Regions from separate parts of the Homo sapiens genome. Here region 2 is linked to region 1. Evidence: fine-mapped expression QTL. A gene starts in region 1. The other region holds a variant in brackets. All regions are shown on one strand. Distances are from middle to middle.

Region 1 (5,371 bases):
CTTTTTTTTTTCTTTTTTCTTTTTTTTTTTTTTTTAATAGAGACTGGGCCTTGCTCTGTTGCCCAGGCTGGTCTTGAACTCCTAGGCTTAAGCGAGCCTCCTACCTCAGCCTCCCAAAATGCTGGGATTACAGGCGTGAGTCAGCACACCCGGCCAGCCATCTATATTTTCTGAATCAGTTGTGAAAACCTTTATTTTGGCCGGGGACGGTGGTTCACACCTGTAATCCCAGCACTTTGGGAGGCAGAGGTGGGTGGATCACCTGACGTCAGGAGTTTGAGACCAGCTTGGCCAACATGGTGAAATCCCATCTCTACTAAAAATACAAAAAATTAGCCGGGCGTTGTGGCAGATGCCTGTAATCCCAGCTACTCAGGAGGCTGAGGCAGGAGAATCGCTTGAACCTGGGAGGCGGAAGTTGCAGTGTGCCGAGATCATGCCATTGCACTCCAGCCTGGGCAACAAGAGTGAAACTCTCAAAATTAAAAAAAAAAAGAAAAGAAAACCTTTATTTTTCCTGTAAAATAAACAGATGCAAGTGGTGCCTCTGTTCTTCCTGCCTGGAATGCACGCAGGTGCTTGGGCCTGGGGCAGCCCCCGGGAAGCTGTGAGAGAAGTCCAAGAGAATTATAGCTATGCTGGCCTCAATGTCACTGCACTGCTGATCTAAAGCCAGCAGCTGCCTTTTTGGTTATGTTAGGAAGATAAATGCCTATTTGTTTAAACCGCTGTAGGACAGGTGTTTGTTATATTCAGTCCCAAATATCCAAAATTCCCCGCAGTTGAAAGCAAAGCCAAGAAATGGGATGAAGAGGAATTTATAAGTGTTCTGAAGTTCAGGATCCAGAGCTTCTTGAAATTACATTTTTTTTTTTTTTTTTTTAGACAGGGTCTTGCTCCATCACCCAGGCTCAAGTGAAGTGGCATGATCTCAGCTCACTGCCGCCTTGACCTCCTGAGCTCAAATGATCCTCCCACCTCAGCCTCATGAGTAGCTAGGACTGCAGGCATGAGCCATTGCACCCAGCAATAAATAGCCTTTTTGGTTTGCCCAATTTGTGTCATGTTTGTCACTAGTAACCAGCAGAGTCCTAATCTAGGGTGTCAGGATGGGCCCCCAGCTGTGAGTACTCACCCCTAGTGGCCACAGCCCCACAAGGGCCTCCGCATCCTGGGTATCCAGCTCTGGCACATGCCACACCCCCCATGTCCTCTGCAGGCGAGTAAGTGGCTCTAGGGTGCTGAGGACCCCTAGAGGGGTCCTGTCTGCTTTGTTCACCTGTGGTGGGACCAGCCTGGGATGGACAGTGTCCAGGGAGTCAGGGGTCAGAGGTGGGCAGTGGGACAATGAGGTGAGGTCAAAGGTACAGGAAGGGGCAGGCCCAGGGCAGAGGCTCAGAGATGTGATTCAGGATTCTGTAGTGAGGGAGGTATTGGATGGAAAGGGTTTCTGGATGCAGGGGAAGGAGGGCATAGCCTCAGCCCTAGTAGCCTCACCTCACCCCCTCTGTGGGGACTTCAGGTGCCTTGTCTTCTGGCTGGGCCATCGTCAGGTTGCAGGAAGCCAGTGAGTCATGACCTGGCCTCTGGCAGGGAGAAAGGTAAGACTCAAAGCTGCTCTAGCCCTCGGGTCATGTTCAAGATATTTACAATCAATATGGCAGAGACCCTGACCAATCAGAATGGACCCCAGAGGCCGCTTGCCGTGGCAGGGGTTAATTCTTTATTTTATTTTTGAGACGGAGTCTCACTGTATTGCCCAGACTGCAGTGCAGTGGCACGATCTCAGCTCACTGCAACCTCCGCCTCGTAGGTTCAAGCGATTCTTGTGCCTCAGTCTCCCGAGTAGTTGGGATTACAGGCGTGCACCACCACGCCTGGGTAATTTTTGTATTTTTTAGTAGAGACAAGGTTTTGACGTGTTACCCAGGCTGGTCTCAAACTCCTGACCTCAAGTGATCCCCCCGCCTCGGCCTCCCAAAGTGCTGAGATTACAGGCATGAGCCACCACACCCGGCCGGCAGGGGTTAAATCTTTAGTACCGGATGGTGGGGAATCTGGGGATCCCAGGAGAGAGGCCAGTGTGTCTTGCGGTGTGGGGAGAGGACTCAAAACAATAGCTCTTTACTGAAGTGGTAGGAAATATGTTAAGATTTTTAACAGCCATGGGGGCTGTGTAAATGTGGGCCAGCCCTTGGCAAAACCCAGTCAGCGCCTGGAAAAGTTCTTGGCCCAGAGTAGGCAGTCCCTATATCTGGAAAGGTAATAACATCCCCTCTTCCTCCCTTCCCACACCATGGAGGGGCCACTGAATCTCTTCCCCCAGCATTTTATTATGAAAAATTTCAGACATAGAGAAAAGCTGAAAGAATTGTACAGGAAACATCCCTATGCCCACTACCAAGATTCTACCATGAACATTTTACTCATCTTGCTTTATCACACATCTGTTCCTCTCTCTCTTCATCCACCCATCAGGCCCCAGCTCCTAACCAGGTACAGAGTCCTACGTAGGTTATCACTTAGGGTGGCACTTATCCCAGCAGCAGTCCCAGGAGCAGGAGACCTGGATCGGGGGAGGATCCATCCTCCCTCCCTCCCTCCCTCCCTTCCTTCCTTCCTTCCATCCATCCAGTATTTACTGAATACAGGCTGGAATTAGGTGCCTCTGCCCTGGAGAGAGGGTGATGAACAGGACAGGCTCCTCCCCTCAGGGCCTTCCATTCTTGTTTGGGGCAGGTGTAGCATATGGATAATAGGCAGCTAAACAAATACATTAGGCCATTGACCAGAAGGCCAGGGTGTTATTAGGAAGGAGGGAGGTGGGCAGGGAGGCGCAGGTGCCCTGCCCAGGCAAGAGCAGGAAGGAAGGGAGGGGAGGGGAGGGGAGAGGGAAGCAGATGCCTGCTTGTGTACCGTGGCAGGAGAGGAGGCTGTGGGCAGTGCGTGGCAGGGGTGGGTCAGGGCAGCTGCCTCATACCAAAGGGAGGCAGCAGGGGCTGAAGATGCCAGATGCTCGGTTCCTGGGGGCCCTACCTGTTCTCGGAGGAGAGGCCTGCAGTAGCAGGAAGTGGAGAGAGGAAGCTGAGCAGGCAGGGGGAAGAGGCGGGGCTGGGGTATCTGAAGTCAACTTTCCTCCCTCTTTCTGGGGCCTCAGGCCTTTAGTGACGGGGCTTAGAGGAAGGGACACTGGCAGGCTGGGAGTCCAGGGGTCAGAGCCACGAGGGCCCCCGTGAGGACCCTCTTGTTACCCCTCACTCTGGATCCCGGAGACTTTCTGGTTCCTTAGTGGCCCAAGATCTAACCCCCTCCCTTCAGAGATTTCCCTGGGTGCCCACAGAAAGAAACAGGAGGCCAGACCGGATTGTTAGTTGTTTTTGTTTTTAATTTGTCTCCAATAAGCAATGTCTTCTGCCCATCCAGCATGGGAAGTGGGTCCCACGTGAAGGGGGCCCACCACCCACTTTGGGAGCTGAAGGCAGAGACTCGGGAGCCCTCCCGGCTCAGACTCCCCCTACGCTGGGTGTGGGTTATATTCAGAGGCCCACACCCACACTGGGGTAGGTTAGGTATGGTTTACTTAGCCACAGGCCCCCGGGGGCAGGAGACAGAGTGGGGGCCCGAAGCTCCCTGTCCTGGAAGAGTTAAAAGTTCTGGGGTAGCCCTGGCCCCGTGGGGGCAGTTAGAGATGAGGGAGGTTACTCCTTAGCCCAGGAGTGGTTAGAGACAGTGGGGCTGGTAGAGATGCCTGTTTAAGCCTTGGCCTCTAGGAGGTGTTAGAGATTTGCTGGGGTTGGGGGCCAGGGTTGCTGGGACCCCAGTTTTGGGGAGGGAGCTGTAAGAGATTGGGGGATGTTCTGAGCTCCCCAGACAAGAACTGCTGGTTAAGAGGGGGCCAGGCCCGGTTGGGGCTCAGCTGTCCCTGAGGAGCTCGGCATCCCGCCTGGGAGATGCAGCTGTCACTGGGGTTTCTCCCTCTCTGTTGTCCTGGCCTCGTCCTTGGCAGGTGGCGGGGACTTCTTGGGGGAAGCTGAAGTGCTGGGGTTGGGGACCCCCGCCCCCGACTGGGCATCTATGCTGGCGTGCTCCCTCCGGACAAGGTCCTCCAGCTCCTTCTGCAGGAGCAAAGGTCACAGAAGTCAAAGGTCACTGTGCATCATGGGGTCAGAGGACCCATGGGGTGGGGAGAGGGTCCAGGGATGGGGCTCAGGACAGGCTGGGGTTGCTCAGCTCCTCACCTTCCATCCAAGGAGCTCAGCAAGGGCCAGGCAGCCCTGGTCGCATTCACCCAGCCAGGCCACGTCCCTGCGGTGCAGCAGGAGATCAGAGTTCCCAGGCGGGCTCGCCCCTGCCTGCTCCTCTCATCTGCCTTCGTGCCCCCGCTCCCACCTCACCCTGTCCCTTCCAGGCTGCCCCAACCCCCGGCGGGGCCTCACCTGTAGGCCTTCTTGGAGTCAAAGTCCATGCCTCCTCCGAGGCCCATAATCATCCCCAGGAAAGGGTCCGACTGTCAGGGAGGGGGTGGGTCAGGGGCAGGAGCAGGGAAGGGAGAGCTAAGAGCACAGACCCTGGAGCCAGGTGGCCTGGGTTTGTATCCTAGCTCTGTGACTTTGTTTTTTTTTTGTTGTTGTTTTTTTGGTTTTTTTTGAGACAAAGTTTCACTCTTGTTGCCCAGGCTGGAGTGCAATGATGTGATCTCGGCTCACTGCAACCTCCACCTCCTGGGTTCAAGTGATTCTCCCGCCTCAACCTCCCGAGTAGCCTGGATGACAGGTGCCCAGCACCATGCCCGGCTAATTTTGTATTATTAGTAGAGACGGGGTTTCACCATGTTGGTCAGGCTGGTCTCGAACTCCTGACCTCAGGTGATCCACCCGCCTCGGCCTCCCAAAGTGCTGGAATTACAGGCGTGAGCCATTGCGCCCAGCCAGCTCAGTGACTTTGGTCAAGTGACTTGTCCTCTCTGTGTCTTAGTTTCCTGTAGAATAGGGGTGATCACAAAACCGCGATGGGGTTGTGGCGCCAGTGAGTTCACGCAGGCTAAGACTTGGGACAGTGTCTGCCCACAGCGTGCGCTGCTTGCCCGGTGACCCTGCCTACTTCCCCTGAGGGGAACACCTAGGAGGGAGCACCTGCCCTAGAGTGAGGCTGCCCAGGAAAAACAGACCTGAGAGACCCAGAGCGTGGACCCAACCCCGCCCCCCGCACTGTCTCTCCTGACCCCTGCACCCCCTCCCACCTCCTCAGTCCCTGGAAGCCCGGCCTTCCTATCTGGCTTCAGCTGGTTTGAGTTGGAATTCTATCACTTGCTCAAAAGGGCAGTGAATGTCCCAGAGGCCTGGAACCCGACCCCTCTGGATTCTAGAGCCCC
Region 2 (5,371 bases), 82 kb before region 1:
AGCACCTGGACACCCTCCATCGGTAACAGTTCATCAAAAATTTTTAAATAAAAAATTTTTTTTGTTGAGGCAGGGTCTTGCTCTGTTGCCCAGGCTGAGTGGAGTTGTGGATAAGGGCTTACTGCAGCCTCAACCTCCCAGGCTGAAGCCATCCTCCCACCTCAGCCCCCCAAGTAGCTGAGACTACAGGCACGTGCCATGGTGCCAGGCTAATTTTTTTGGGGGGGGCGGGTGTTTGTAGAGCCAGGGTCTTGCTATGTTGCCCAGGCTGGTCTTGAACTCCTGGACTCAAACTCCTGAGCTCAAGCGATCCTCCCACCGAGGCTTCCCAGAGTGCTGGGATTACAGGTGTGAGCCATGGTGCCCAACCTAAATCCTTCTTTATTAAGTTTGTCTTCAAAGAAATTTAGAATTTATGATTCAGCTTCCCTTCTCTCCTCCCCATCCTCCTGGATCTTTCTGTAACAGCTCTATTGACATATAACTCATATGCTATACAAGTCACCCATTCAAAGTATACAAGTCAATGTTTTTCAGTATATTCACAAGGTTGTGCATCCATCAACACAATCTAATTTTAGAACATTTTTATCATCTCAAAAGACCTTGGCTCACAGATGTAATCCCAGCACTTTGGGAGCCTGAAGCGGAAGGATTGATTGAGCCCAGGAGTTCAAGACCAGCCTGAGGCCGGGCGCTGTGGCTCACACTTGTAATCTCAGCACTTTGGGAGGCTGAGATGGGCGGATCACTTGAGCTCAGGAGCTCGAGACTAGCCTGGCCAACATGGCAAAACCACATCTCTACTCAAAATACAAAAAATTAGCCAGGCGTGGTGGCACGCACCTGTAATCCCAGCTACGTGGGAGGCTGAGGCAGGAGAATTGCTTGAACCCGGTAGGCGGAGGCTGCAGTGAGCAGATAGCACCATTGCACTCCAGCCTGGGTGACAGAGCAAAGCTCTGTGTCAAAAAAAAAAAAAAAAAAAAAAAAAAACAACCTGGGAAATATAGGGAGACCTCATCTCTACAAAAAATAATTTTAGCTGGGCATGGTGGTACACACCTGTGGTCCCAGTTACTCGGGAGGCTGAGCTAGGAGGATGGCTTGAGCTGGAGAGGTCGAGGCTGCAGAGAGCCGTGATCGCTCCACTGCACTCCAGCTTGAGCAACAGAGTGAAACCCTGTTTCAGAAACAAAACAAAACAAAAAAGAACAACTAAAAGAAACCCCATACCCATAAGCAGTCACTCCCCAACTTGCCCCTCCCCCAGCACCTGGCAATCACTAACCTACTTTCCAGCTGTATGGATTTATGAATCTGCTTGTTTTCCACACGTGGAATCATACAATATGTGGCCCTGTATATCTGGCTTCTTCCACGGAGCATCATGTTTTCAGGGTTTGTCCATGTCATAGCATGCATCAGCACTTCATTCCTTTTCATGGCTGAATGCTGTTCCAATGTGTGGATCGAATATACGCGTTTACCCATTCATCATGGTGAATAATGGATATCTGGGTTGTTCCTACATCTTGGCTATTATGAATAATGCTGCTATGAACCTATTGTGTGAACATGTTTTCATGTCTCTTGGGTAAGTACCTAGGAGAATTTCTGGGTCAGGCCAGGTGCTGTGGCTCATGCCTGTAATTCCACCACTTTGGGAGGCCAAGGCAGATGGATCACCTGAGGTCAGGAGTTCGAGACCAGCCTGATCAACATGGAAAAGCCCCATCTCTACTAAAAATACAAAATTAACCGGGCGTGGTGGTGCATGCCTGTAATCCCAGCTACTTGGGAGACTGAGGCAGGAGAATCGCTTGAACCCAGGAGGTGGAGGTTTCAGCGAGCCGAGATCGCACCACTGCACTCCAGTCTGGGCATCAAGAGCGAAACTCCGTCTCAAAAAAGAAAAAAAAAAAAAGAATTCCTGGGTCACATGACTCTTTTAAGTTCCGTTTCAAAGAACTGCCAAACCATTTTCCAAAGTAACTGTAACATTTTACATTACCATCAGCAACATATGTGTTCCTATTTCTCCATGTTCTCTCCAACACTTGTTATTGTCTTTTTTTTTTTTTTGAGACAGGGTCTTGTTCTGTTGTGTAGGCTGGAGTGCAGTGGTGAAATCATGGCTCACTGCAGCCTCCACCTCCTGGGCTCAAGCAATTCTCCTACCTCAGGCCTCCCAATTAGTTGGAACTATAGGTGTGCGTCCCCATGCTTGGCTAATTTTTAAAAATTTTTTGTAGAGACAGGTTCTTGCTATGTTGCCCAGGCTGGTCCTGAACTCTTAGCCTCAAGTGATCCTCCCACCCCGGCCTCCCAAAGTGCTGGGATTACAGGCATGAGCCACCACACCTGACCTATCTGTCTTTTTTATTATAGCCATCCTAATAGGTTGGCTTCACCACTTGGTGAAGAGATATGTCATGTGGTTTTGATTTGCATTTCCCTAATGACATGGGTTGCCGTTTATATATCTTCTTTGCAGAAATGTTTATCGAAATTTTCTGCCCATTTTAAATTGGATTTTTAAAAGGTGTTATATAATCTTATCCATAAATATGTGTATAATTCTAAATGATATTTATTTTTTAATTTTTATTTTTGAGATGGGGTCTCACTATGCTGCCCAGGCTGGTCTCAAACTCCCAGGTTCAAACAGTCTTCCCACCTTAGCCTCCCAAGTAGCTAGGATTACAGGCATCTGCCACCACGCCTGGCAGGCTCTCTTTTTAAACAAAACCTCATTACCATTCTAACTCCTAAAAAATTTACAGTTCATATCATTGTATGATACAATGTTTGCAAAGTTTGTATGCAAAGGTTTCCCCCAACATTTTATTATGA[A/G]TTTTTTCAGACATGCAGAAAAGTTAAAAGAATTATTCTATGAATACCTCATATACCCTAACCAGATTCTATATAACATTTTACTCAACTTGCTTTATCACACATAGATCCATCTATCCACCCTTCTATCCATCCATCACCATCTTCTTTTTTTCTTTTCTTCTTCTTCTTTTTTTTTTTTTTTTTGAGAGGAGTCTCACTCTGTTGCCAGGCTGGAGTGCAGTGGCGCGATCTCGGCTCACTGCAACCTCTGCCTCCCAGGTTCAAGCGATTCTCCTGCCCCAGCCTCCCGAGTAGCTGGGATTACAGGCACCCACCACTATGCCCGGCTAATTTTTTGTATTTTTGGTAGAGACAGAGTTTCACCACGTTGGCCAGGCTAGTCTCAAAAATTCCTGACCTTGTGATTCGCCTGCCTCGGCCTCCCAAAGTGTTGGGATTACATGCGTGAGCCACCACACCTGGCCAAAAAATATGGAACACTTCACAAATTTGCATGTCATCCTTGCGCAGGGGCCATGCTAATCTTCTCTGCATCATTCCAGATTTTAGTATATGTGCTGCTGAAGCGAGCACTATTTCTTTATTTTATTTTAATATTTTGTATTTTTGTATTTTTGTATTTTTTTTTTATTGATCATTCTTGGGTGTTTCTCGCAGAGGGGGGATTTGGCAGGGTCACAGGACAATAGTGGAGGGAAGGTCAGCAGATAAACAAGTGAACAAAGGTCTCTGGTTTTCCTAGGCAGAGTGTGTGTGTCCCTGGGTACTTGAGATTAGGGAATGGTGATGACTCTTAACGAGCATGCTGCCTTCAAGCATCTGTTTAACAAAGCACATCTTGCACCGCCCTTAATCCATTTAACCCTGAGTGGACACAGCACATGTTTCAGAGAGCACAGGGTTGGGGGTAAGGTCATAGATCAACAGGATCCCAAGGCAGAAGAATTTTTCTTAGTACAGAACAAAATGAAAAGTCTCCCATGTCTACTTCTTTCTACACAGACACAGCAACCATCCGATTTCTCAATCTTTTCCCCACCTTTCCCCCTTTTCTATTCCGCAAAACTGCCATTGTCATCATGGCCCGTTCTCAATGAGCTGTTGGGTACACCTCCCAGACGGGGTGGTGGCCGGGCAGAGGGGCTCCTCACTTCCCAGTAGGGGCGGCCGGGCAGAGGCGCCCCTCACCTCCCGGACCGGGCGGCTGGCCGGGCAGGGGGCTGACCCCCCACCTCCCTCCCGGACGGGGCGTCTCGCCTGGCGGGGGGCTGACCCCCCCACCTCCCTCCCGGACGGGGCGGCTGGCTGGGCAGGGGGCTGACTCCCCCACCTCCCTCCCGGACGGGGCGGCTGGCCGGGCAGAGGGGCTCCTCACTTCCCAGTAGGGGCGGCCGGGCAGAGGCGCCCCTCACCTCCCAGACGGGGTGGCTGGCCGGGGCGGCTGGCCGGGCGGGGGGCTGACCCCCCCACCTCCCTTCCGGACGGGGTGGCTGCCGGGCGGAGACGCTCCTCACTTCCCAGACAGGGTGGCAGCCGGGCGGAGGGGCTCCTCACTTCTCAGATGGGGCGGTTGCCAGGCGGAGGGTCTCCTCCCTTCTCAGACGGGGCGGCCGGGCAGAGACGCTCCTCACCTCCCAGACGGGGCGGCGGGGCAGAGGCGCTCCCCACATCTCAGACGATGGGCGGCCGGGCAGAGACGCTCCTCACTTCCTAGATGGGATGGTGGCCGGGAAGAGGTGCTCCTCACTTCCTAGGTGAGATGGCGGCCGGGCAGAGACGCTCCTCACTTTCCAGACTGGGCAGCCAGGCAGAGGGACTCCTCACGTCCCAGATGATGGGCGGCCAGGCAGAGACGCACCTCACTTCCCAGACGGGGTAGCGGCCGGGCAGAGGCTGCACTCTTGGCACTTTGGGAGGCCAAGGCAGGCGGCTGGGAGGTGGAGGTTGTAGCTGAGATCACGCCACTGCACTCCAGCCTGGGCACCATTGAGCACTGAGTTAACGAGACTCCGTCTGCAATCCCGGCACCTCGGGAGGCCGAGGCTGGCGGATCACTCGCGGTTAGGAGCTGGAGACCAGCCCGGCCAACACAGCGAAACCCCGTCTCCACCAAAAAAATACGAAAACCAGTCAGGCGTGGCGGCGCGCGCCTGCAATCGCAGGCACTCGGCAGGCTGAGGCAGGAGAATCAGGCAGGGAGGTTGCAGTGAGCCGAGATGGCAGCAGCACAGTCCAGAGGGAGACCGTGGAAAGAGGAGAGGGAGAGGGGGAGGGGGAGGGGGAGGGAGCTATTTTGTATTTTTTTAGAAACAGAGTTTTGCTCTGTTGTCCAGACTAGAGTGCAGTGGCCTGATTATGGTTCACGGCAGCGTTGAACTCCTGGGCACAAGCCAACCTCCTGCCTCAGCCTCCCTAGCAGCTGGAACTACAGATGTTTGCTACATCTGGCTTACTTTTTTATTTTTTGTAGAGACAGGGTCTCGCCATGTTGCCCAGGCTGGTCTTGAACTCC

Evidence for each region. PIP is the estimated chance that this variant, and not a neighbour inherited with it, causes the effect.
Region 2: its variant is the best candidate, but not a certain one, in a credible set for the expression of RINL in whole blood (TOPMed, PIP 0.55).

What each region holds. Positions count from the first base shown.
Region 1 is chr19:38,875,196-38,880,566 of GRCh38, forward strand. It overlaps RINL (Ras and Rab interactor like), which reads right to left and starts at 3,080. Exons shown (of 12, transcript NM_001195833.2): 1 at 3,037-3,080; 2 at 1,498-1,586; 3 at 1,136-1,295. The coding sequence starts at 1,547. SIRT2 (sirtuin 2) reads right to left here. Exons shown (of 16, transcript NM_012237.4): 14 at 4,437-4,507; 15 at 4,239-4,305; 16 at 3,365-4,115. The coding sequence ends at 3,960. RefSeq lists a silencer at 2,867-2,916 and enhancers at 3,457-3,576, 3,617-3,716.
Region 2 is chr19:38,793,678-38,799,048 of GRCh38, forward strand. It overlaps the pseudogene RNU6-140P. Among named protein-coding and RNA genes, the nearest start is that of LGALS7B, 7.2 kb to the left of the region's middle. RefSeq lists an enhancer at 3,406-4,320. The variant A/G (reference allele first, on the strand shown) is at 2,857.